Linked DNA regions of Homo sapiens. The protein of the gene in region 2 interacts with the protein of the main gene of each other region in a pairwise test. Each region holds a gene or a part of one and is shown on either strand. Other genes may lie near its edges. The genes, in order: RNF185, ARL6IP5, CLN8 and MIEF1.

The links.
Region 1: the proteins of ARL6IP5 (region 2) and RNF185 interact in binary tests that used the Homo sapiens proteins (3 or more experiments, as listed by UniProt).
Region 3: the proteins of ARL6IP5 (region 2) and CLN8 interact in a two-hybrid assay, tested with the Homo sapiens proteins (one study listed by BioGRID).
Region 4: the proteins of ARL6IP5 (region 2) and MIEF1 interact in binary tests that used the Homo sapiens proteins (3 or more experiments, as listed by UniProt).

The regions. Positions count from the first base shown.
Region 1 is NC_000022.11:31,191,174-31,198,204, reverse strand, and holds part of RNF185 (E3 ubiquitin-protein ligase RNF185), read right to left. Parts: intron 5,522-7,031; coding exon 5,503-5,521; intron 2,737-5,502; coding exon 2,624-2,736; intron 1,270-2,623; coding exon 1,215-1,269; exon of another isoform or gene 1,048-1,214; intron 1-1,047. UniProt on the Homo sapiens protein: E3 ubiquitin-protein ligase that regulates selective mitochondrial autophagy by mediating 'Lys-63'-linked polyubiquitination of BNIP1.
Region 2 is NC_000003.12:69,101,909-69,106,595, reverse strand, and holds the end of ARL6IP5 (PRA1 family protein 3), read right to left. Parts: coding exon 4,540-4,687; intron 2,133-4,539; coding exon 1,960-2,132; 3' UTR 504-1,959; downstream 1-503. UniProt on the Homo sapiens protein: Regulates intracellular concentrations of taurine and glutamate. Negatively modulates SLC1A1/EAAC1 glutamate transport activity by decreasing its affinity for glutamate in a PKC activity-dependent manner.
Region 3 is NC_000008.11:1,759,107-1,766,790, reverse strand, and holds the start of CLN8 (protein CLN8), read right to left. Parts: upstream 3,003-7,684; 5' UTR 2,906-3,002; exon of another isoform or gene 2,793-2,905; intron 2,358-2,792; exon of another isoform or gene 2,207-2,357; intron 1-2,206. UniProt on the Homo sapiens protein: Could play a role in cell proliferation during neuronal differentiation and in protection against cell death.
Region 4 is NC_000022.11:39,505,290-39,512,320, reverse strand, and holds part of MIEF1 (mitochondrial dynamics protein MIEF1), read right to left. Parts: intron 2,900-7,031; exon of another isoform or gene 2,750-2,899; intron 1,034-2,749; 5' UTR 1,027-1,033; coding exon 883-1,026; intron 473-882; coding exon 295-472; intron 90-294; coding exon 1-89. UniProt on the Homo sapiens protein: Mitochondrial outer membrane protein which regulates mitochondrial fission/fusion dynamics.

The DNA.
Region 1 (7,031 bases), on a different chromosome or scaffold from region 2:
TTCAGAGCATCATGGAAAACCTGCCAAAATTAAATTTTAAAGCAAACAGAATGGTGATGGCTACATAAAAATACATATGCACAGCCTACAGATGAAGAGAACATGAGGATATGAGAATATACTTGTTCTGGGCTCTTGGCAATGGTGGGTAAATATTTTGCTTTTAAAATTTCTTTAACATTTTAACAGAATTTTTTTAAGAGTAACATTTGATGTAAATATGCAAAAAATGTAAATGTTTTTGTTCCTAGCCACTAGACCACTAGAGACAAATGTGCAATTTTTTTTTAGCCAGTAATCTTACTTCTAAGAATTTATCCTAAGCCAGGTACAGTGGTTCACGCCTGTAATCCTAACACTTTGGGAGGCTGAGGTGGGAGGATTGCTTGAGCCCAGGAGTTAGAGACCAGCCTGGGCAACATAGTGAGACCTTGTTTCTACCCAAACAAAACAAAACAAAAAAAAGAAAGACAAAAAAAAACTCAAAAAACTAGCTGGGCATGGTGCCGTGCACCTGTGGTCCCAGCTACATGGGAGGCTGAGGTAGACTGAGCCCAGGAGGTCGAGGCTACAGTGAACTGTGATCACACCACTGCACTCCAGCCTGGGCTACAGAGTGAGACCCTGTCTTATCCTAATAAAATAATAATGAACATGCTCACAAATTTATCTGTAAGTTCATCAGGATTTTTTTTAACTTGGAAAAAGAAAGCCGCTAATGTCTAACAAAGGATTGAATTATGTTAAATCCACACAACTAAATGCTAAACAGCTAGTTAGTAAAATATTGCTGGCAATGTAAAATCTCAAGATAATACTAAAAGACTCCCACTCACACAAAGAAGGTACTAAGTATCTGTAGAACAAATGAAATTTTAAGAGAGGGTTACAAAACAGGAGCCACATATTGTAAAAAACAAAAAACAAAAACTGTAAAAAGTATACACACATCTGTAAAATACACGCACAGATTTGTAAAATTTGTGTGTATATATAATTATAGAAAAATGGAAAAGAAAATAGAACCAAAATGTTTCCAGTGGTTACCTCTGGATTGGTGTGGTTATAAGTGATTTTTTTCCCCCTCTTTTCCTTTCTGTATTTTACAAGTTTTCCTTTACTTTTATAATCAAGGAGAAAAATTGTAAGGCTAAGAAGGAAACTTCTAAAGCCATCAGCTCATTTGTAGAAGCTTCTCCTAGAATGTTCCTCACCCCTCTATTCTCCGGCTCTGGCCTCTGTCCTTGAGGACGAGGAGGGGTCTTCTCTCTGAAACAGAAATGGTGTAAAATAAGTCTATTACAAATTGCTTTGAGTTGCTCCCTGTGAGGACCTGGAGCTCTTTACCAACAGGGTCAGGGCCATAGCCTCTTTCTTGTCCAGGACATGAACTTATGCCAGATTAATTCTCCAAATACGAACTCTTCATTCTACCTGCAACTGTTCTTCCCACGTGTATAGAGAACCAGGGAGAAAATCAACTCGTTATGAGATATTCACCAGATTGCACTACAGCCTACTCCTCTTACAGAGATCCTGACTCAGATCGGTTAGGAATCATGGCCAGATGCCTTCCCTGGGCCTGTTACAGATAACAGAAATCCCAAATCCATACTGGAACAGAGGGTGGGTTGTCAGCAGTAAGGGCTGAGGTTCATGGTTTCTCTGACCTTCCCCTATTAACTTCAGCTCTATCTCCTACTATTCTTGGGCAAATACCCAATGCTATTATTTTTGAGTCTCACCCCCTCAAATCACTCAACCCATGAATACTCAATTGAGGGCTTAGTTATACAATAAGCATTATGCAGGATGCTGTAATACTGATGACAGACCCAACCCTTGAAGTGTTCATGGTTTCAAGGGGGATAAAGCCAGTCATATGACACTGTGGTGGGAACTGGGTGAGAGCAACTAATGTGAAGAAGACAGACCACTTCAAGGAAGAGGGAACTTTAGGGCTGCTCATAAGAGATGAGTAGAAGTTAGAGGAGCAGGTGGGGGTAGAGGGGTAGCTTGAGCAGGACTGGGGAGGGAAGAAGGCAGAAGAGAGAGCAAATACACAGGCTGATAAATGTGAAAGAGCAAGTCCCTTTAAGAGAAAGTCTAATATGTCGGGTACACAGCATATGCTAGGGTAGCTGGATAAAGGTAAGAGATTCTTCTGGAGAGCTTGGGGATGCCAGACCATGAAGGGCTCTCAATACTTGTGTTTGTTGAATGCTGGACCCATGCACATCTCCATTTCTAGAAATCCCAAACTCCACAAAGTCACCCAGATCCTGTTTCCCCTCCCGCCATGCTTTATACATCACTGATGCAGCAACCCTGCTCCCTGGAGCCTCTCCTGCTACATATCCTGCTTCCCAGGTTGCAGAAATGCTCTTTCACAGGGCTCTGCACACTTGTGATTGTGATGTCTGTTCACTGCTGGGTCCTAGCAAGTGGCAACTTGGATCCCCTCTCTTCCCTCCCCTCCTAGCTGACTCTCATCTGGATGAGACTGCTTCGAAACCAAGAGATCATCTAGTACTAAGTAAAGGGTGGGGTTAGGGGATGCTGAATGGGAGTGAATTCACATCCAAGGGGAGAAGTGGTTGGGAGAGGCATCCTGAGTCCTCACCTGGGGTCCTGTTGCCCAGTGCTGCCCCTTCCATAGAGGGGGATGACCTTGTCTCGGCTGATGCCAGCTTTGCAAACAGGACACACCTGTCTGTTAGGTCTGGTCTCCAACCACTGCAAACAGGAGAGAAAAATGCATGTGGATGGCCCAAGACCCACCAGAGTGATCAGCCAGAGCCACCAGAACAACACAGGCCAGAGGCCTCAAACTGGGAAACACCAGCATGAGCAGGGAACATCTCAAGGAACCTGACTCCCATTCCTTCTCCTACCATTCAGCAAATACCTACCAGTGGTAAAATCAAAATTGCCTTTAAATATCATCATAATTGGCCGGGTGCGGTGCTCATGCCTGTAATCCCAGCGCTTTGGGAGGCGGAGGTGGGTGGATCACCTGAGGTCAGGAGTTCAAGAGAAGCCTGGCCAACAAGGTGAAACCCCGTCTCTACTAAAAATACAAAAATTAGCCAGACATGGTGGCGCATGCCTGTAGTTCCAGCTACTCGGGAGGCTGAGGGAGGAGAATCGCTTGAACCCGGGAGGCGGAGGTTGCAGTGAGCCGAGATTGCACCACTGCATTCCAGCCTGGGCAACAGAGCAAGACTCTGTCTCAAAAAAAAGAAAAAAAATCATCACAATTAGGCTTCTTCATGCTTTGTTTCTCTCTAGGGCCTCCTAGCAACACAGGGGGAGGGAAACTGCAAGTCTGGGGCTGTCAAGTCTGACATGCCCAGCCTCAATTTAGGCTGCTGGTGTAAGTACAGCAAACTTTAAATCCCCACCTTCCCAGTAGGAGCAACTGTATTTTCCTGTCAGTCATATTCTTCTTTCTGTGATTTCTCATTTTTTTTTCCCCAGACAGAGTCTTGCTCTGTCACCCAGGCTGGAGTGTAGTGGCATGATCTCAGGTCACTGCAACCCCTGCCTCCTGGGTTCAAGCAATTCTCCTGTCTCAGCCTTCCAAGTAGCTGGGATTACAGGCGCCCACCACTGCGCCCAGCTAATTTTTGTATTTTTAGTAGAGACAGGGTTTCACCATGTTGGCCAGGCTGGTCTCAAACTCCTGACCTCGTGATCTTCCTCCCTTGGTCTGCCAAAGTGCTGGGATCACAGGCATGAGCCACCGCGCCCGGCCAATTTCTCATTTTTATAGCATTTTCCCAACAACTGTGTATCCCAGGCATCAGAATCAGGAGATAAGCTGATCATTTTCTGGTGACTTACCACATGCTAAAGGATAGGTTTTGCTCATTATCTAAATTTGCTTAATGCTTTTTGTGTACTTTCATTGATTTTTTGCATTCACCTATTTCTTTCAATATAAAAAAAATCCCGTTTTGGGTTTCTCAGGCCCTTTCACTGGTTACATTAAAATTTTTTGTTTAGGCCAGGCGCGGTGGCTCACGCTTGTAATCCCAGCACTTTGGGAAGCTGAGGCGGGTGGATCACCTGAGGTCAGCAGTTCAAGACCAGCGTGGGGAACATGGTGAAACTCCGTTGTCTCTACTAAAAAGACAAAAAAACTAGCCGGGTGTGGTGGTGTGCACCTGTAATCCCAGCTACCCAGGAGGCTGAGGCACAAGAATCGCTTGAACCCGGGAGGCGGAGGTTCCAGTGAGCCGAGATCTCACCATTGCACTCTAGCCTGGGCGACAGAATGAGACTGTCTCAAAAAAAAAAAAAAATTAATTTTCTTAAAAAAACAAGTGATAAAAAATGTTTTTGGTTTGTTTTTGTTTGTTTTTTGCTTGTTTTTGATTTTTTTTTCGGTTTTTTGGTTTTTTTTCTCGAAACAGAGTCTCACTATGTCACCCAGGCTGGAGTGCAGTGGTGCAATCTCAGCTCACTGCAACCTCTGCCTCCCAGATTCAAGCGATTCTCGTGCCTCAGCCTCCCTAGTAGCTCGGACTATAGGCGTGCACCACCACGCCCAGCTAATTTTTATATTTTTTGTAGAGACGGGGTTTTGCCATATTGGCCAGGCTGTTCTCAAACTCCTTGCCTCAAGTGATCCACCTGCCTTGGCCTCCCTACGTGCTGGAATTATAGGTGTGAGCCACCACACCCGGCCAAAATGTGTTTTTATAGACATTCTATAAACATGAATCTAGGACTTCAGGGCTGAGGAGATGGCAGCACTGAATGATTTTATTTACTACTCTTACTGTTCATAGCTCCAAAACTTAATGTGTTATGTGTTCTTCATAAACTCATAGTCAATATGTACTACCAGGTCCCGCTGGGGACAGAATGTGCAGCCCTGTTCCCACCTTCTTTCTCCCATCCAGATTCTGAAGCTTTAGCAGTCTGGAACTTCTGTCCTCCCCCACATTCCCAGGCCACCTACGAGTGTGGTACTCTACTGCTGACGACCAGGGAGACTTTCAGCAGGCTGTGATTATTCACAGCCACTTGTGAATGCCAGGCCCAGCTCTGTCTCACCAAGTAGGTGCTAAAGCTAGGAAAATAGACTTTTCTCTCCTCACAAAAGCTCTTTGTTGACACCAAAAAAATTTTCCCCTTCCTAATATTTTCATAACCTTTAAGGGCTGGGGGACTGTTGATATGATAGGAGGCACTGTTTTAATAGAAGCAGAATCTCAAAAATAAAAAGGACCTAACTAACATACTATCAATCCAATCCAATTTATAAATGAGTAACTGAGATCCAAAAAGGCCCTCTGTGGCAGAATTAGGACCATCCCGATTTCATCAAGTGTCTGTCAGTGGACAGGTATGTAAAGAAGGCTGTGGGGGTAAGTAAGCAAATGAGCCCACAAGCAGGGCAGATTGCAGCTTCTGAAAGCAGTCTCCTGAGACTAGGGCTCTCTTGTGCAACCAGAGCTGATGAAAGACAAAGTAAAATGAAATGCATCTTACCTGATGTAAACACGGCCAACTGCCAGAGTCCCCAGGGCAACCAGTCATCAAGGAGAAGGAGAAAAGGGGAAAGGAAGAAAAATGTTTTCATTAGCAGAAACACTTGATGGGTGGAGTGGTAGTAGCAGAATGAGAAAACAGGAGTAAACTATGGAGCACTGCATGCCCATTGAGGTTCTGTAGGGATTACTGGTATCGGAAATTAAAAAAAAACTGGGGTAAAAATCACAGAAAATAAATAACGCAATGGAGATAAGACCCCAGCCTCTGCCCCTGAGATCTCAGTATATGTGAAATCCCCAGGGCTCAGACCACACAGACCCAGCTTCTCTACAAATCACCCTGTGAGAGGTTACAACATCTGAAGGAATCCAATAAAAGCTAAGGACACCCTGTGCAAAAAATTGATGGGGGCATTCACATACACATGTACTACACACTATTTTACACTCAATTTCAGTGGGTTCATAGTCTCCTCGGGCTCACAAGGGATGTGTGGACTCTCAGGTAGTCCAGATCCAGTTTAACAAAATCTTCAGGCTGTCCTCATCCTTGAGAACTCTCCTAGCAGGAAGCAGCTTAAAAGTTCAGGTCTACTCTAAAAGCATCTTTAAGTAATAGAAAGGATGGGGATGCTACTTGACAGAAAGGGTTACCTTCAGCTTAGAGAGCTGCTGTCCAATCTCTCTCCATTTTCAAATGAGGAAACCAAAGCTCAGAAACATAAAATGAACTGCATCAGGATTAAAAAAAAAAGTCTCCTGACTTCTAGTTCATTGCCCTTTCTATAATCTAACACCACATACAAAAAAAAAATGATATCTACAGAATTGAAAGAAAAGTATTCAACTCCACTTTTTTTTTTTTTTTTTTTTGAGACGAAGTTTTGTTCTTGTTGCCCAAGCTGGAGTGCAGCTCACTCAGCTCACTGCAACCTCCACCTCCCAGGTTCAAGCGATTCTCCTGTCTCAGCCTCCTGAGTAGCTGGGATTATAGGTGTGTGCCACCACGCCCAGCTAATTTTTTGTATTTTTAGCAGAAACGGGGTTTCACCGTGTTAGTCAGGCTGGTCTCAAACTCCTGACCTCAGGTGATCCGCCCACCTTGGCCTCCCAAAGTGCTGGGATTAAAGGTGTGAGCCACCGTGTCTGGCCCACATTTTTAATTTCTTTCTCTCGTTTATTTAGTTAACACATATCTACTGTGTACCTACTATGTAGGCCAGGACAGTGGAAAATGCAGGCATGGCTTCTGTACCTCACATACCAAGTATCTTTAGCTGAGTACACTTTGAACTCAAAGGATAGTTCCTTTTCCAATTCCTGAACCACAGTTTAGCTTCACAAACCAAATACACAATCTTCCTGGCCATAACATCTGACTCCAACATTAATCTTGCAATGTCATTCTAAACTGAGTGGAGAATAACCCCAAATCATGGCAGATCTCCACTGGCAAGTTCCCTTAAAGACTCTAGGGGAGAAGTGGAGGTGAATGAATGACCCTCAGGGGAAAGTCAGGCTTTATAA
Region 2 (4,687 bases):
AAGAAGAAAAGATGATCCAATTTCATAGCTTATGGCCTCAATACACAGGTTTTGCCAAAAGAGGTGAAGCAGTTCACATTATGCTTTTTCTACCACCCAACCCTAAAGATCTTAGTTGCAGATTTTAGCTTGTTTTTAAATGTAATCATAATTTACAACATTTATATGTTACATTTTTCTGTTATTACCCTTCCAGAATTGACTACTGGCCATTAGTAATTACAGGTATCTTTTTTTTTATTAGTTTCTCCAAATTTATTGGATTTTATCGGCAGAATTCACCTTGTAGAAAATGGAATGGGCTAACATGTATATAAAACTGGGCTAACATGTATATAAAACTCGTGCCAGGTTTAAAAATAGGATCCCACTGGAATTGTTTTATTCTGGCTGCAAGTTAATAAAGTATTCAAGCTTTACTAAACAGTATTTGAAACAGCTGAAGTGTTTGCTTCACTGTTTATAGGGTCGTCGCCAAGTTTCTCAGGTATTTAAGACAGATGTGCATTAAATAAAGTCTCACCAAAAAAACCTTTAATCAATTTTATTCTTCATATGTGGGTAAGGGTACAGATTCTAGACCATGTCTGTGAAGTCATGGTGATATCACTGTGCTAAAGATCATGGCTGTAGGTTGGCTGAGAATTTAAAATGCAAGAAAAATCAGAAGCAGCACATCATTGCTTCTTATTCTAGGACATACAGAGAGTTTCTTCAGTAAGTACCACTCCAGTTGTCTTCACAATTTAATGCTACAGAAACCTAAATGTTTCTACTTCAGCTACGAAATCATTCAATTGGCAGGCAAAACATTTTTTATTACCTATTTATAAAAACATGAGAAAGGGAGGAAAAATAATAGAATGTATAAACTCATGCTATCATAATTCTAATGTCTAGCTATAAAGGCATATGGTTGTAACAATTGCTATCTAAAATTTTTTATTAGCTGCAGTAGCTGCATTCCATTTTCATTACCATTTTTTAAAGTCTTTTTGCTTGGTCATCTAAAGACGTTTTTCAAATTTCAAAAGATCAGCTATTATTGTCCTCCTTGTGCCCCTAAGGAATTAATAAAATGCACATTCATTTCCTTCTTTCTAAATGTTCCAGTTAAAAACGAAACAATGCAAAAATGGCAAACATTTTCTTGGACCATTTTTTTCACTGTAACAACAAAAAATGTGCAAGGTAAATAGAACTCAAGTTTTGTTTTATTTTTTGTCTGTTTGTATTTTAATAAGTCCGTCCAGAATAATACAGGTTACATAGCTGTAACCATCTTAAGGAAAATGACATTAAGTTTGCAACAAATACTTGCTGGTGAAAACACATTACTAGCATTTCAAAAATTTACAAAAATGTAACAAAATATCCTAAACAGCTATCTTTATATTTGTAAAGGAAGTATGAACAACTGGCTTAACCAGTTTCCACTGCACATCAAACAGGTGGCAAAGTGATAGAGATCATCTTTGATTTTTAAGAGAATAATAAAAACTAATTTATATCCCACACATTACAATTCTAGGGGATTAGGAACAGGCTAACACATGATGTCATCTACTTTAACAGCCTTTTCATTTACTCGTATTGTCTTGATACTTTACAATGATTTTTTTTTTCCTATAAGATAATCGTATTGTTGCTGTAAAAGCCGTAATTCTTTTATTTTTTTTAATTCCCTTAAAGAAATCGTGTGATCCATTTCCCATTAGATTTCATAAACACACGTGAAACTTCAGACACAATAGGAGGGTGGTGGTTTTCTTTCGGTTTCTGAGGTCTTCTCTCTGAAACATCAGAGCTGATAATAGTTCGGCCTATACATGCATGCTGCCATAGATAATTGGGTGGTACGTGCACCTCCTGTTTCAAAAACGCAAGCAGAACATAGGTCTGGACAAGGGCAAGCTGCAACTCAATTTCTGCTGCAACCCTAGCTCAGGTAAGTTATGTTTATTCCTTCACTTTGCTGATATAGTCAGTGAGTCTGTTGATGCCTTCTTCCTGCTGTTCTAGGGCATCCAGGACAATGCCCATCGGTGTCCTCTTCAAACCTATTCCTTCCATTTTATTCTCCAGTTTGTTCTTGAGGTTCCGAAGTCTCAACGATGCATGGATAAACATCACTGCAGAGAAGGGACACCTGGTTAACACCAAAGCAACAATTCTCTTTTGCCATATCAATATTACACTCCCTCTCTTCACACTATTAGTAAACTGCCTTAGTTAGCCACAGTCCAGTCTGCTTCTCGAATTGATGCAAGCTTTCAAATGGCTCCTTGGACTTTATGTAAAGCTCTCCATCAAGTCATACATAGTTTTTTTTCTGCATTAAAGGAAAATGCTGTATTCAACAGGAAGGACCATTATCTGGAAGCCACACCCTTTCCTTCACACACTGATATCATCACCTTGCAGATGCTACTTAAATGTCCTGAAATTCAGAGTGAATCAACGGGATTCCATCCTACTTAAAAATCAACTTACCCGAGGCTTTCCAGAAAAGAACTCTTGCTCGATTCGGGATTATCTGTATCTTGTTCCCTGCAGGAGCACGTGAGTAAAGTCCACTTTTAAAGTGCCTCCCGGAGGCTTTACCCAAAGTGTTGGGTATAGAATTCTAGATGTAAAAATCTAAGGGCTTTACAGAGTTTCTATAGCCTACCGTTCCCCAAACTTGCTTGATTATTTTACCACAGATTCCCTATCCCCTTTCCTGGACCTCCTCCACCTGAGCCTTAAAGAGACAGGCCTGGGAATCTGTATTTTAAACAGGTAACCCTCTCTCCATATGATCTATACCAGTGGTTTTACAACTTCCATGTACATTCAAATCACCTGGAGAGCCTGTTAAATAGGCAAATTCCTGGTCTCCATCACCCCAAATTCAGACTGTTACAACTGAGGGAAGGCTCCAGAATTCATTATTTTAATAATCACTCCAGATGATTCTGATGTAGGTGGATCTTGGACCCTTATTTTGAAAAACCCTGATGTGGATTCATCTGGAGGATCTCAACCTAGACCACCCGTTAGAAATAGTTGACGAGCTTTCTAAAAACCTAACATCCTTGGGTACCACTGTTGACCCACAAAATAAAGATGTGGCTGGGAAATGTATATTTTTAAAAAGTATCCTGAATGCTTGTCACAATTATCCGTTTGGGAATCACTTATCTAATCTCCTTACTTTAGAGATGAGTGAACTACAGCCCATATAGGATGACTGGTCCAAATCACATGCTGGTTTCCAGCAGGTCTAAGAATAGAAATCAGGACTCTTAACTGTCTACCTCTGATACATTTCGTTACACTGGCCTGTCTCAGGTTCTGATGTGGAAAGGTATTAAAATTAGCAAGCTGTTTGATTAAACAGTATCATTGAAATACTAAGCGTTAAGCACCTACAGAAAACCTGAAGAAAATTCCAAAAATGTGTGAATTTGTTGGCTCAGATATTTTATCCAATAGGGTATGGGATGTATCCATAAATATTCTGGACTTAATCTAACAAAGCCCTAAACAAGCAAATAATTTCATTTAGTGGAATAAGTGCACATGTCAAATGTTATTGAAAGTTAAAGGGATGTGCCTGTCACTTAATATACTAGAATTTTAATCAGATTTCTGCTGATTAGGCTGGGATTTTATTTCTTGTCTATTTCAGGCTTCAAGTGTTTGGAGTCTTAGTAAATAATTCATGTAAAACTTAGAGAATATCTAGATCTCTTCACCAGAATCTGAGTATTTAGTACCTATATTCTGAGCCAATTATTCCTATAGACTTACCAAACTTTTAACACTAGTTATGATCTCCTGAGCAAGTGGAGAATAAATAGTCTACTTCCAAATAATAAATACATTCATTCCTGTGTCAGGACAATAGGAATGGCACTTAAAAATTGAGAATAGACTCTCTTATTAGACAAATCTGGAGTCTAGTGCAGGTTATGCCACATTCCTGCTGTATGACCTGGGATTTGTCTTTGTTCTGTTTACTGTTGTGTCCCCATAAGAATGTATGGCACACAGCTGGGCGAAGTGGCTCACGCCTGTAATCCCAGCACTTGGGGAGTCCAAGGAAGCTAGATCACTCAAGCTTGGGAGTCCGAGATCAGCCTGGGCAACATAGTAAAACCCCGGTCTCTACCCAAAACACAAAAAATTAGCTGGGTGTGCACCTGTGGTCCCAGCTATTCAGGAGGCAGAGGTTGCAGTAAGCCGAGATAACACCACAGCGTGGGTGACAGAGTAGACCCCATCTCAACAACAACAAAAGAATGTATGACACATAGCAGATGCCCCAACAAATATTTGTGGAATTAATGAACTATAAGGCCTTGACCTCATAGTTCTTGACCTCAGTTCTGTGTTATCTGGGTCTAGTTGGATAACAAGTAGAAAGCTGTTTTAGAAAATTCTGACACTTTTGCTGACATGCCAACACATATAAGAAATGGGTTATGGAATTCCCGTTGGATAATTGCTTCTACATTTTTTTGATGATGGAAGAAAAAACTCAAGTTCACTTACACAGCAAAGGAAAAGTAATGCCAAACACAAAGACCATGACTCCTCCAAACATGGAGATAAGGAAATAGCTCGCCAACATGACCACCATAACGAACGTCGTGGGGTAGCGCTTCTTCATCCGGCGAAGGACGTCTTTATTGTGGGCTGC
Region 3 (7,684 bases), on a different chromosome or scaffold from region 2:
GCTGTGCACCATAAGGCTCAGGCCACATGAAGGAGTCCTTAAGTGTAATGCACAGCTGGAAGTCACTGTTCCTTCCATGGGTAAAACTGGAGGCCGAATCGGCCGGGCAGGGTGGCTCACACCTGTAATCCCAGCACTTTGGGAGCCCAAGGTGGGAGGATCACGAGGTCAGGAGATCGAGACCATCCTGGCTAACATGGTGAAACCTTGTCTCTACTAAAATACAAAAAAAAAATAGCCAGGCGTGATGGCGAGCGCCTGTAGTCCCAGCTACTCGGGAGGCTGAGGCAGGAGAATGGCGGGAACCTGGAAGGCGGAACGTGCAGTGAGCTGAGATAGCGCCACTGCACTCCAGCCTGGGTGACAGAGTGAGGCTCCGTCTCAAAAAAAAAAAAAAAAACAAAAAACTGGAGGCCGAACCTAATGGACTCATCTGGTTCTTTCATTCTGGAAGGCTTCCAAGCCCTTCCACACCAGCCCCTTTCCTCTCTGCAGTAGAGGAAGTGGAGCCGGAGAATAAACAACTCCTGGAAGGCCACCATCTCTTGACGCTGCAGATCTTCATTTTCTTTGGAGAAAATGTATACAAAAAGCTTGTCTTATAAGATTCTGTGGTTTCAGCTCTTCTATTGCACTGGGCCATGAAGTTTTTTAAAAATCTGAATGCAAACACATCAGTAAGAGTGTTAGCTCTGTTGCTGCAGTGTGACCAGGAACCAGGCTCAGTGGCCACTGGAACCCTTCGACTCTGTCATGCATCTATGCGCTCCTCCGGTTTATGGGGGCTAAACTGCTATGGATACCAGCATTTTTGTTTTTCATTGAGATAATTTATCCAAACTTGGAAGTGACGTCAAAAGGGAAAAAAAAGGTTGCATGCTTTTTTCCCTGCTAACGCAAGTTCAGTGTTTTACAACCCCAACAATCACTTGACTTTCTAGGAGAAATAACTAAACTATTTACCACTGATTGTGGGTCACGCATTTTACAATCTGCAAAGCTAATTCTCCTTTCCATCAAGAAGAAAAGACAATCCCAAAGGCTGTGGTTTCAATGCACACAGGATATTCACCAATCTTATTATCTAATCTGGCAATCTTCTCTCAGCATTCCTGTTACCCACTCACTAAGAAAATCCTAGTTTTGTGTATTCTCTTTTGAACTGACATTCCTATCCTGCTGTATACTGCATTAATGACTGAAATATAACCTGACAAGAGCTATTTACATGAGAATTATACTTCTAACATTTTGAAAATTATACATTGATGGGTTGTAAAAATGTTTTCCAAAATCAACAGAAATACATGTTTAATACACAAAATTCAGAAAATATAAACAAGCATAAAAATACAAAAATAAAAATTTACAATCCTCTTACACAGCTCCAAGCACCATCACTATTTTTTGGTGCCTGCTGGGTCAATTGTTTTTCTAGATATAAACTCTTCTTTTTACATAAAAGGGGATAACAGTATACAAGCTGCTCCCCGGCCTGCTTCTCTTCTCTCAGCAACAGCTAATCCTCCTCTGCAACACGGTTGCAGGGACTCCACCATTTACCTACCCGGTGTCCTACCAGGCTTTTGCCCAGTTCCTCGTTATCAGAAGACATTGTGTATTGAACATCTCTGAGGCCACCTAGAGAACCTGTGCTCTTTGTATGGAAACTGGATGCTCAGGAAGAACTTCCTTAACAACCACAGCCTCCATGACGGCCAATCTGAAAGTGAGGCACAGAAGTGTTCAAGCTCAGTGGGGAGCTGTGGCCATCTCATATTCCCTCAATCACTCACACTTCCTGCACCATTGCTCTTTCCTCTCACAACCTTCCTGAAAAGTTGTATGTAAATAAAAATCAAAATACGGGAGTGAGGTAAGCAGAAGCTGGATAGTTACAGATTTCACACAGAGGGTAAACTGAAACAGGAGTCAGAAGCAGCCGCCTCGCGCCAGTCTTTCAGAGAAGAGTCACTTACAGCAGAATCTACACAGGCTGGGGAGCCCCTGGCTCCCCTCCCTACTGTCCACACCCAACCCCAACCTAGAGCAGCTGGCTATAGGGCCCAGAGCCCAGGCGGGTCCCACCTCCTGCTGACCTGACCCAGCGCCCGCTCTCTCCCCCGCACACTTTGGTGACCTTACCCAGCGTCCCTCCCCGCTCCTACAGGTTCTGACTGACCCAGCGTCCCTCCGCCTCCCACACCATGTTGAGCTGCACCTTGTCCCCTTCCGCCCCAGCTAACTCGGTGACCAGTGGAGGCCACACCCACGTGACACCTGCTGTCCTTGACAGCAGCTCCGACGGCACCTCTGTGGCTCTGCAGGAGCCGCCTCCCCGCCTCGTGGGCACACAGGTGAGCTGACCGTACTTGCCCAGCCGGTCTGAGGGAAGCGAGGTCAGGGGCGACGGCGCCGCCTCCGCCTCCGCCTGTCCCCTCCCTCCGTCCGGCATCCGCGCCGCTCAAGGACTCCAAAGTCAGCGTCGCGGTGAGGAGCCCCCCACGCCCAACCCGCGCAGGCAGGACCCCGGGCTGCGGGGCTCGAAAGTCCCCCACAAGCTGCTGTCCGGGAACCGCACGGCCCGGGGTGCCGCACGCCCACCGGAAGGCAGGGCTGGGACCGCGGACGCCAGGAGCCACCCCGGCCCCTCACCCGGGCTCCCCCTCACGTGGGCTCCCGCGCGCCCATCTGGGTTCCCCCTCAGCTGAGTTCCCGGCCCCTCACCTGGGATCCCCGGTCCCCTCACCCGGGCTTCCCAGCCCCCTCGCCTGGGCTCCACGCGCGCTCACCTGGGCTGCCCCTCACCTGGGTTCCCGGCCCCTAACCCGGGCACCCCGCGCGCTCACCTGGGCTGCCCCTCACCTGGGTTCCCGGCCCTCACCCGGGCTCCCTGAGCGCTCACCTGGGCTGCCACTCAGCCGGGCTCCCTGCGCTTGGCGCCGCCCCGCCCCTGCAGGACTCCCGGCAGTCACTGACCTCATTGCCGCCCAGTCACGACTGGCCGGCCTCAAACACCGCCCGCGCACGCGCGTTCGCACGCGCGTGCGCACGCGTTCTGCCCCCCTGGGGGCGTCGCTACGAGAGGCCCCGCCTAGGCGCTACGACGGCGGCGGGCGCGGGAGGGGCGGGGCGGCGGGCGCGGGAGGGGCGCGGCGGGGGGCGGGGCGCGGCGCGGGGGGCGGGGCGCGGCGGGGGGCGGGGCGCGGCGGGGGGCGGGGCGCGGCGGGGGGCGGGGCGCGGCGGGGGGCGGGGCGCGGCGGGGGGCGGGGCGCGGCGGGGGGCGGGGCGCGGCGGGGGGCGGGGCGCGGCGGGGGGCGGGGCGCGGCGGGGGGCGGGGCGCGGCGGGGGGCGGGGCGCGGCGGGGGGCGGGGCGCGGCGGGGGGCGGGGCGCGGCGCGGCGGGCGCTGTGGGGCGGCGGGGTGGACGCGCTGAACCACGGCCGGCGGGAGGGGCGGGGCCGGGCTGAACCATGGCGGGCGGCGGCATGGGGGCGGTGGGGCTCCGCGGGCAGCCTGGTTGCGCTGCACCCGGACGGGGCCGAGGGGACCTGAAAGCTGCGGCAGAGCCTGACCGCGCCGTTCTCCAGAAGAGCCCCGGCCGCGGCTGAGTCGCGCTCCGGGTGTGGACGGAGCCGGAGCCTCCCCGGGGCTCGGTGAGGACACAGGGCCCAAGCCCCGGACCTTCAAGTCTTGACCGAGCGCATCCCCGGCCCTTCTGCGCCCACACCTGAGTTTTTGTCTGTAGGAGTTTCCGCAGTTTGCTAAGGTTGTTATTCGAGTTACTTATGTTTCTTCTCTCTAAGGTTGTTATTCGAGTTACTTATGTTTCTTCTGTCTAATGTGTTTTGTTCCCTCTTTAGAATCGACATCTAGAGGAGTACTCACCACTTAATTGATGATCAATACACGTTCCTTGAAAGAACCGATAGCATGCGATCGATACAGAGCATCTGCACTGGGATTGTCCGCCCCGCCTGTCAGGGAGGCCTCGGGGGCTAATGGAGCTGAGGGTATAGTCGGCCTTGGACCCTCGCTTTTTTCCTTTCCTGTACTATGAAGATAACTGCCTTATCTCCCCCTCAGGACTGTTTTGGGGATTAAATAGGACGTTTAAATTACCAACGCTCTTTGAAATAAACATTTCAAAATTATTATAACCCTTTAGTACATGTGGGAAAACGTTGACATTCATGTTCAAGTTTATTTTTCTGCTGGCTCATTTAGGTTTGTTGAAGCCTTGAGTCCCTAGGATTGTCTAAGAACATGGGTAAATGTGTGTGGAGGCCTCCCTGGAGGCCAGAGAACTGCCAGCAGCCTTCATGATGTTAGGGGAACAGGAACCTAGGAGAGCCAGGGTGACATCGTTTTAAAATCAACAACCCATCTTGGCGGGCGCGGTGGCTCAAGCCTGTAATCCCAGCAGTTTGGGAGAAAAAAATTAGCCGGGTGTGGTGGTGGGCACCTGTAATCTCAGCTACTCAGGAGGCTGAAGCAGAATTGCTTGAACCCAGGAGGCAGAGGTTGCAGTGAGCTGAGATCACGCCATGGCACTCTAGCCTGGGCAACAAGAATGAAACTCTGTCTCAAAAAAATAAAAATAAAATAAAATAAACTCCATCTTAAAACCAGTGAAACCACCATTGCAAAATTATAACTGAGACAGTGAGAGATCTGACCTAACCAACTCCATCCTACTTTTAACCTCCAAACTGTCCTTGTTCATTCCTGGGTGTAGGCCAAACTAACTTTGGAAGAAACTTAGTTTATGGTTTCCCGAAACAAATCCTTTTCTTGTCTGGAGACTAGACTGCCTTTGTAGGACTAACAAATTAGCCACAAGATTAGAAATTATGGTTTAGAATTCATGCAGCTGGAGATTACAAGATTCTGACCCTCCCTAAATTGCTCCTGGGGATAACATCACTATTGAAAAACCTAACAACAGTGCTTGAGATATTTTGCAGACCTTGCACTTGCTGAATTAGCTGGGACCATCCAGATGGATAAACTGGCTCATCTGATCTTGTGGCCCGCACTCAGCAACCGGCTCAGGCCAAGAGGACAGCTTTGATCCATACGATTTCATCTCTGATCTGACCCCTCAGTGCTCCCAGCTTACTGGCCCCCTACCTACCAAATTATCCTTAAAAACTCTGAACTCCAGGGCTGGGCACGGTGGCTCACACCTGTAATCCCAGGACTCTGGGAGGCCGAGGCAGGCGGATCACTTGAGGTCAGAAGTTCAAGACCAGCCTGGCCAACATGGCAAAACCCCGTCTCTACTAAAAATACAAAAATTAGCCAGGCGTGGTGGTGCACGCCTGTAATGCCAACTACTTGGGAGCCTGAGGCAGGAGAATTGCTTGAACCCTGAAGGCGGAGGTTGCAGTGTGCTGAAATCGCACCACTGCACTCCAGCCTGGGCAACAGAGCAAGACTCCATCTCAAAAACAACAGCAAAAACTCTGAACTCCGAATTCTTGGGGAAATTGATTTGAGTAATAATAAAACTCTGGTCTCCCGCACAGCCAGCTCTGTGTGGATTATTCTTTCTCTATGCAGTTCACCTGTTTGGATAAATCAGCTCTGTGTAGGCAACATGAACCTGATTGGCAGTTACAGTAGCCTGTAATCCCAGCTACGTGGGAGGCTGAGGCAGGAGAATTGCCTGAACCTGGGAGGCGGAGGTTGCAGTGAGCCGAGATCATGCCACTGCACTCCAGCCTGGGCAACAGAGCAAGACTCCATCTCAAAAAAAAAAAAAAAAAAAAAAAAAGATGGCTATAGTCATGCTTAGATGTAGTTACGCACTGAAATGCCAAGGATAACGTTATTTACATCCACCAAGTACTAGATCTTGTCACACTGCCAGCCCACCTGCACTTACACGTAGCTTGGCTTTTACATTGATACAAGATGCCTTTGAAACAAAGATGGCACATTCTTCTTCCTGCTTTCCGCGGGCTCCCCACTCTGTATCAGAGCAGCTGTCTCTCACTGCACTCTGCGACTGCCTTGAGTTCCTCCCTGCGCAAGATCCGAGAACTCTCTCTTAGGGTCTGGACTGGACCCCTTTCTCCATCAGCACTGGGTTCCTTAGATTCCTACTAACAGCATGCTGAGGCCTGTCTTAACAAAGAATGAAGTGAGGCTTAGAAAGATGGAACCATAACTTGCTCAGTCACGTGGCTAGTAAGCTCTTCAGCTTGAATTTAAACATTCCAGGACTGTGTCTTTCCACTCGGCCATCTTTAAAGCAGAGTGATAAAATAGTTTTGTTTTCTAAAAAACCATCACAGGCATAACTGATCACAGGTATAACCAGTATCCATGCGGGGTGTGGAACACTGAATGAAACCCGGGCGGATTCCCAGCTTGCTCCGTCTCAGCTTGGGCACTGCTGTTTACAGCCTGTGTACTCCCCTCCCGCCCTGCCACCCACAAGTGTCTCACCTCCTTCCTCGACAGATCGAATGACACAACAAACATTTATCTTGGGTGCACAGCGTGTCAGGCGTCAGGCTAAGCACTTTGATAAACTGGTTCTTTCAAACATCACAGGTGTCTGACGCAGGCACCATTATCCACGTCATAGAAAAAAAACAGTGTTCAGTGAGCCTGAGGTTAGCAATGTGTGCACCTCCACACACTGCTAAATGACAAAGCTGAATTTTGAAGTACGATGCCATGAGGTGTCTGGAGTAGACAACCAAAATGACTTAATTGAGGTGTCAGGGGACTGTCTTACTTTCTGGTCACACAAGCAATATACGCTCATTGTGAGGTTTGGTTGTTCCATTACAAAAAAGACTGTTTTAAAAGCCATTAGCGGAGGGATGGGAGGAGTTCTCTTCTGCCTGTTTCTTCCTCCTAAACAGCAAAATGACGGTGTCCTCAAAGGGATGTATAATGAGCGAGAGGCGAAAAAGAACGTCTGTGATTTTAAATCCAGTGTCCTTCACCAGTGAGCAATAGTAGTTCTGTGAGTGGGAGAGCAGGACCGCGGTGCTTGCAAACAACACTTTAAAACACTGGAACCCAAGTTCAGGATCTGCTGACAGCACATCTGCAGGAAGCATGAGGGTCTCTGGACTCCCGCAGATCAGCTGCTCAGCTTCTCAGCCTCAATGTGGCAAAGACTCTACCTGACCTAACTCCAGGCAGGGTCCTCGAAGCCCTCAAGGCTCTGACCTGGACCCCTGTCCCCTTTCGTCCAAAAGAATCCTGCTGGGTCAATGCAGTGACAGTTCCCCGCCCCTGATATCATACTCCTCATCCCTCACCCTCGGTATCTTATCACCTGGCCTGCCTGTGGCACGAATCCTACCAAGTGGTTCTAGCAAGAACCCCCCTGGCCTGATGTAGCCTCTTCATAGTTTTCCGTCCGTTCTCACCCTCTCCGTGGCTGTACATTCCCGTTTTTCTTCTTACACTCAGAGTTGAGCCTAGTCCCACTGCAGTGGCCCCTGCACCTATCGCGATTCCTTTGAGACTGTAAAACAAAAATAAAATTCTAGTCCCCCGCCAACCCCGTTAGCCACGAGCTTTCCAAAGTAAACCTTAGAGACTAGTTCAGACCGTGATGGGAAGTGGGGGTGGGACAGGCTCCTTATACCCGCCTTCCGTTGAAATCCAGGCACAGCTGACCTGCATTAACGTCAAAGCAGAGATCTTAAGGTTGA
Region 4 (7,031 bases), on a different chromosome or scaffold from region 2:
CTCCTGCAGGGACATGCGGAGTCGTGACTTCTTCAAGTCTACCTGGCCCTTCCTGGCCACTGGCTTGGGCCGGGGCGGGCAGAATGTATCTGCCAAGGCAAGAGAGAGAGGCACGTGAGCTCTGCCCATGCCTGCTCAGTCCACAGCTGCCTCAGCCCCAGAAAGAAGGGCCTGGCATGGAGGGCAAGTGCTGGCACAGTGCCTGGCACAGATGTGCTCAGGAAACATCTGCTGAGTGCAGGAGTGGTACTGAAAGTCCAGAGAGGTCCCAGGAGGGGCAGCAGCCCTTCTCACCTGTGTCGAAGGTGGAGGAGTCTGTGGGAAGGGTCTGCAAGGACCGGCTCAGGCCCGTCTTCATGTCCCTGTTCAGCAGTCGTGGGGAGCCCATCCAGTTGGGTTCTTCCCAGCTCCTTTTCCCCGAATGGCTCAGGCGGGTGGGGCTGGTAGGGGCACTGATCGCCCGATCGTACATCTGAAATAGCAGAGAGGACACAGGACATAAACCTGCCCTCTTTCCCTATTTCCTTCCAATTTACTTCCTCCCCAGAAGCTCTGTCCTAGTAAGTTCTTTTAGTAATTTTGTTTTTATTTTAGATTATAGAATACTTTGCTCCACGCAGAAAATCTCAGGGAAGACTACATGATATAAGACATAGATAATCCACGTCATGACCCAGAGAAAACTGTTTGTAATATCTGGTATGTTTCTTTCTAGATGCATGTAATGACGATCACTCTATACATACTTTTGAAACCTGTTTTTTTCACTTATCATTGCGATCATTTCCTCCTAGAACGCTTCGACATTTTCTTTCTATAAAACATTACATCTTATGACCATACCACTACATTCCACCCCCAGCCCTGGCTGCATGCACTTACCCGCTTAACTGCCAGCGTGGCGATGCCCAGCATGGCCGCTCCACCCACCCCCAGCACCAGCCGGGCATTGGAGAGCACAAAGTCAATGGCCGTGCCAATGCCATTGTCATCCTTCTTGCCTTTGCGCTCACCAGCGCCTGCCATTGCTCATCTGAGAATGAAGACAGAACACGGCCATAAGTACTGGGACCCCAAGAACCTCCCTCCCCTAACAAGCCAAACCCCAACAAGTACAGGGTACTCTGTGAGTTCCAGCAACCCAAATCTTCTTGCCTCCAGCACTGCATGCTTTAGGGTCTGGAGGGAGCTACAATGTCCCATGATAGATCAGGATGCAAGGAGGAGGGGCTGATCTTGGGTATTGTAGGAAAACTTTCCCCAAGCTAGTGAGATTAAGAAAGCATTAAGCTCAGTGTCAGTCCTTTTTTGTATTACAATGAAGTACCCCACCATGCAAAACAGCCCTCTCTCTGCCCCTTTACAATGTTAAAATGCAGGTCTCTACCCCTTCACAATGTTATAATGCAGGTCTCTACCCCTTCACAGGGGTTATAATGCAGGTCTCTACCCCTTCACAGGGGTTATAAAGCAGGTCTCTACCCCTTCACAGGGGTTATAATGCAGGTCTCTACCCCTTCACAGGGGTTATAATGCAGGTCTCTCTACCCCTTCACAGAGGTTATAAAGCAGGTCTCTCTACCCCATCACAGGGGTTATAATGCAGGTCATTTCTTCGTCCTTTGGCCACTACTTTGTGGAAGGTTAGATCTGAGCGGGACCTTGGAGCTCATCTAATGCCATCACATCACCTCACACAGAGGTTCTCAACATAGGGAGGTGATGTGTCAGGTCTCAGAGAAAAGAAATGGTACAGGCGCAGTGGCTCATGCCTATAATCCTAGCTACCCGGGAGGCTGAGGTGGGAAGATCGCTTGTGGCCAGAAGTTCAAGACCAACCTGAGCAACATGGCAAGACCCCCATCTCCAAAAGTAAAAGATAAAAATAAATTGAGCATGGTGGCACATGCCTGTAGTCCTATCTACTTAGGAGGCTGAGGCAGGAGGAATGCTTGAGCCCAGGAGTTTGAGGCTACAGTGAGCTATGATCACGCCACTGCACTCTAGCCTCAGTGACAGAGTGAGACCCCATCTCTTAAAAATAAAAATAAAAAAACAAAATGGGCCGGGCACGGTGACTCACGCCTGTAATCCCAGCACTTTGGGAGGCCGAGGCAGGCGGATCACCTGAGATCAGGAGTTCAAGACAAGCCTGGCCAACATGGAGAAACCCCGTCACTACTAAAAATATAAAATTAGCCAGATGTGACAGCGCATGCCTGTAATCCCAGCTTCTCAGGAGGCTGAGACAGGAGAATCCCTTGAACCCGGAAGGCGGAGGTTGCAGTGAGCCGAGATCACACGATTGCACTCTAGCCTGGGTAACAAGAGCTAAACTCCGTCTCAAAAACGAAAACAAAACGACACAGTCATCTCCAGAACTCAGGACTCCCCACTCCTTGTATGACGCTTTTTCTACTGTACCATGCTCACCCTTACCCAAATCAAATCGGCCCTTATTCTATCTACTTTCTGCAAACAAAACACAAAACAACATGTACCAAACATCCTGCACACGGAACTGAAACTACACGTCCATATGTGAGAAAGGTCCCTCCATGGACCCTCCTACTTGACAAATGCTTTGTTTCTTGAGAGAAGTGCGCAGCGGGGACTATAAAAGCTTAGGTGAGACTGGTATACCGGGAGATAAAAAACACAAAGGACACTGCAGACTCGACTGCTAACTGGAAAACAAAACACCCATCTGCTCGATTACACCTGGAAGAGGAACTAAAAATGTGTTCACCTGAAAGAAGTACTTGGGCACCACAGCGAAGAGGCTGGCCTCCAGTGCAGTGCTCAGGCCAGTGCTGCTCCCGACTACAGTGGAGTCTTCCTGACTGCAGCAGCAGCAGTCCCCAGATAAGCCCATTCCTGTGGAGTTAGAACCCTGGGCCTGAGCCGGATAAAGGATGACAGTGTGATTCAGATCGGAATACCACTCAGCATGCTGCCACTCTCCTCTATAATATCCCGTGTCCTTCACACCAGGAATGACATAAGGGAAAACAAAGTCGGATACCATTTAGCGTCCCAGAATGGGAGGACATCAAGAGACAGGATCAGCCGGGCGCGGTGGCTCACACCTGTAATCCCAGCACTTTGGGAGGCCAAGGTGGGTGGATCACGAGGTCGGAAGTTCAAGACCAGCCTGGCCAACATAGTGAAACCCCATCTCTACTAAAAATACAAAAAATTAGCCAGGCATGATGGTGCATGCCTGTAATCCCAGCTACTCGGGAGGCCAAGGCAGGAGAATCACCATTGCACTCCAGCCTGGGTGACAGAGCAAGACTCCGTCTTGAAGAAAAAAAAAAAAGGATCACTGAGGATTATCTTCCATGTAAAATAACATTCCTTCTAATACCGTGTTACAAGTGGATATTTCTAGCTTCCACATCTTACGCTCCTGCCTCTACCTCCCTGAAAAACAAAGAAATATTTCTGACTCTATTATTCCAGTAATTGAGTTAACTAAGAGTCACTGTCAAGCCCAAAAATATTTTTTTCCCTAACTAGAGTTCACACCTTGGGGGTACTTTCCTTTTCTCTACCATTTACAGTCAATAGAGGCTTCAGGTTTAGGGACATGAAAGACTATTTCGCCAAACCGAGTACATTCCCACCTCAAATGCACAGAGCAAAGCCAGGGAGAAGAGATAACGTTTGTATTTACAGGTGGAATCAGGGAAGAACAGCAGACACCCTCTCTCCAGTGGCCACTGAGATAGAGACGGGACAAACCAAACTTAGCAGAGGCAAGATAACCCAATCAGGAGAAAAGCAGAACACTATACATTTCCCCACACATAACAATGTCTCTTGTTTTAACTCTTTACTGAAATATTTACAATAGGGAGAGCCACTGGACACATGTGCCCTCTAAATGATCCTTGAGTGTGATGCAGCAGGGCCAGAAGGGCACCTCCTCACTCAGGGCAGAAGCAGCCTCCCTGGACCATTTTAGTCCTTGGTGCCCTTCTGATGACTGGTGAGAGCAAGGTGGTGCTACAGATGACAGAACAGAGCGTGGGTTTTAGAGTCAGAAATCCTGAGATACAGAACTTGCCTTGAGCCCTGACTTATTAGCTGGGTGACCTCAAATGAGTTACTTAACACCTCAGCTACGAAAAGGGGATAATGGTCCCCGCGTGGGACCAAATCACAGGGTTGTAGTGAGGAAAAACCATTCACTGCAATCCTGTATGTGAACGGTATAAACTGTATTGCAGTGGATGGTCTATAAACTGTAAAAGTGCTCCACAAATGAGTTCTCCTCTAGTCTTTTAAGATTTCCATCCACAGGACAAAGGTCAGCTTCCAGAAGTCAGTCAGCAACCCAGACTGTCCTCTGAGTGACAGTGCACCTTTTGAGACTGCTCTAAAACGGCCTTGAAAATTCGCAGTGATGCCATCTTGGACTTGAGATCAAAACTATTTTTTCTTTTTTTTTGAGACTGAGTATCACTCTGTCACCCAGGCTGGAGTATAGTGGGGCAATCCCGGCTCACTGCAACCTCCACCTCCCAGGTTCAAGTGATTCTCCTGCTTCAGCCTCCCTAGTAGCTGGGATTACAGGCATGAGCCACCACACCCTGCTAATTTTTTGTATTTTCAGTAGAGACAGGGTTTCACCATGTTGGCCAGGCTGGTCTCGAACTCCTGACTTCAGGTGATCTGCCCACCCTGGCCTCTCAAAGTGCTGGGATTACAGGCGTGAGCCAACAGCTGAGATCAAAACTATTAAGTTGGGCCAGCTTGTTAAGCCTTTTCGGCCGGGTACGGTGGCTCACGCCTGTAATCCCAACACTTTGGGAGGCCAAGGTGGGCAGATCACGAGGTCAGGAGATCGAGACCATCCTGGCTAACACGGTGAACCTCTGTCTCTACTAAAAACACAAAAAATTAGCCAGGTGTGGTGGCAGGCGCCTGTAGTCCCAGCTACTCGGGAGGCCGAGGCAGGAGAATCGCTTGAAGTCGGGAGGCAGAGGTTGCAGTGAGCCAAGATTGCACCCACTGCACTCCAGCCTGGGTGACAGAGCAAGACTCCATCTCAAGAAAAAAAGGCTTTTCCTACTGTAGTGCAATAGGCACCCCCCGCCCACCATCCAAGGACGGACTGACATCACAGACCTGGTGACCTGGAACAGAAGACGGCATCCACAAGCTCAACAGACAGACACGGACCTTACTTGAAAAGTTAATTCAACTTGTTCCAGTTTAAACTGCTTCTCCATGACACGCTCTCCACTCAGGTTCTGCTGCATAAGCTTACAGCCTACTAGCAGGTAAGAACTCCACCTCCAATCGGGACTGTCATGAAGGAACCCCATTGCTTAATGGGTACAGAGTTTCAGATGTGCCAGATGAAAAGGGTTCTGGGGCTCTGTTACCCAACAATGTGAATATACTTACTACTACTGAACTGTACACTTTAAAATGGTTAAGATGGTTAAAATAAAAAACAAAGAAGGAACACAGACCTGGTGGGCAGAACTAGGGATGGAGAATTTCAGCTCTGCCAATATTTCAGGCAAGTTATTTAACCTGTCTCGCTAGATACAAAAATGGGAACAGAAATGCTCATCACCCTAATATAGTTAAGGATGATGAATAATGGAGGCCTTGCGGCTTCCTAGGATGACAGCACAGAAGTGTGAAAGTTCCAACTTATTTTAATTGAAAAAGCCATAGGCCTTTTTATAAACCTATCTTGCTTGAGTATGTACGAGACTAGGTAGCAGATATTGAGTGTGTATTATGTGCTGGCAATTTTACACTTATTATTAATTCCCTCAATCCTCACAACAACAATCCCATGAGATCAGTAATATTATCCCAAATTTAAAGGATGAAGAAACTGAGTAGTTTCTGTAACTGACCCAAGGTCACTGTGTCAGTAAAGTATGTGACCAAGATTTGAACCCTGAGATCACGCGGTGCGGAGAACTAATCTACAGGGGTCCTAGGTACTTGCTCCACACCTTGTTCCCATCTCCACTCCATTAACCCCCAGACCATATGCTTCTGGGGGACATTTGGGCTCATTCACTGCTGCATCCCCAGGGTGTGCAGTGTTTGATGCATAGGGAGTATATGTTGTGGGAATGAAGTATTAACTCTACGGCGTTTTGTTTCTTGGTTTTTTTGAGGGGGTAGTGATAGCAGCGTGTAGCCCAACTCACAGCCAAAATATATTAGGAACACAAAGATTTCAAGGAACGCCCTAATTCCCTCCTAGATCCGCTAGCCAACCCTCCCTGTGCAGACAGGCTCCCATGGGCATCACCCCACCCCTGGCCCTGTACTGCCAAAGGCAGATATGCCAATCCTAAGTGGCTGAGAAGAACCAAAAGTCATTACATAAGGCTCTCTTCCTACTTTCCCTCCCCCAGTTAAAAGCAGCACCCTCCACCCAGCTGGCAGGCCTTACACCCAGTTACTCTTCATCTTTCTCTCTCCTCCTCCTGCCTCAGCCAACTGATCACCAAGTCCCACTGCTGTACACACTGTGTTTATATGTGGCCACCCCCACCCCTCGGTCCCTCAATCTGATCTGGCTACATCCACTGCCTCTAGTATCTCTCATCAATTTATTCTTCACACTGCCACTGGTATGCTCCCTCTACGATACAAATGTGGCTATGTCATTCCTCTGTTTACAGAGCTGTGATGGTCCCCACATAAGAAGATATACATTACAATCTCAACTTGGAGTCAACGTCCTTCCAGACCAGGCCCAGCCTCAACTCTGGCTATTTGCCTTACAGGGGTACCATGCTGGCCACATCAGACTTAAGTTTCCAGACTACAAAGTGCAGTTTCTGGACAGGCAGAGCTGTTTGAACCTATAATCCCAAAGCTTTGGGAGGCAAGGGTGGGAGGATCGCTTGAGGCTAAGAGTTTGAAAGCAGCCTGGGCAACATAGCAAGACCGTCTCTACAAAAAAAATAAATAAATAAAAAATTAGCTGAGCACATTGGTACATGCCTGGCGTCCCAGCTACTCAGGAGGCTGAGAAGGGAGGA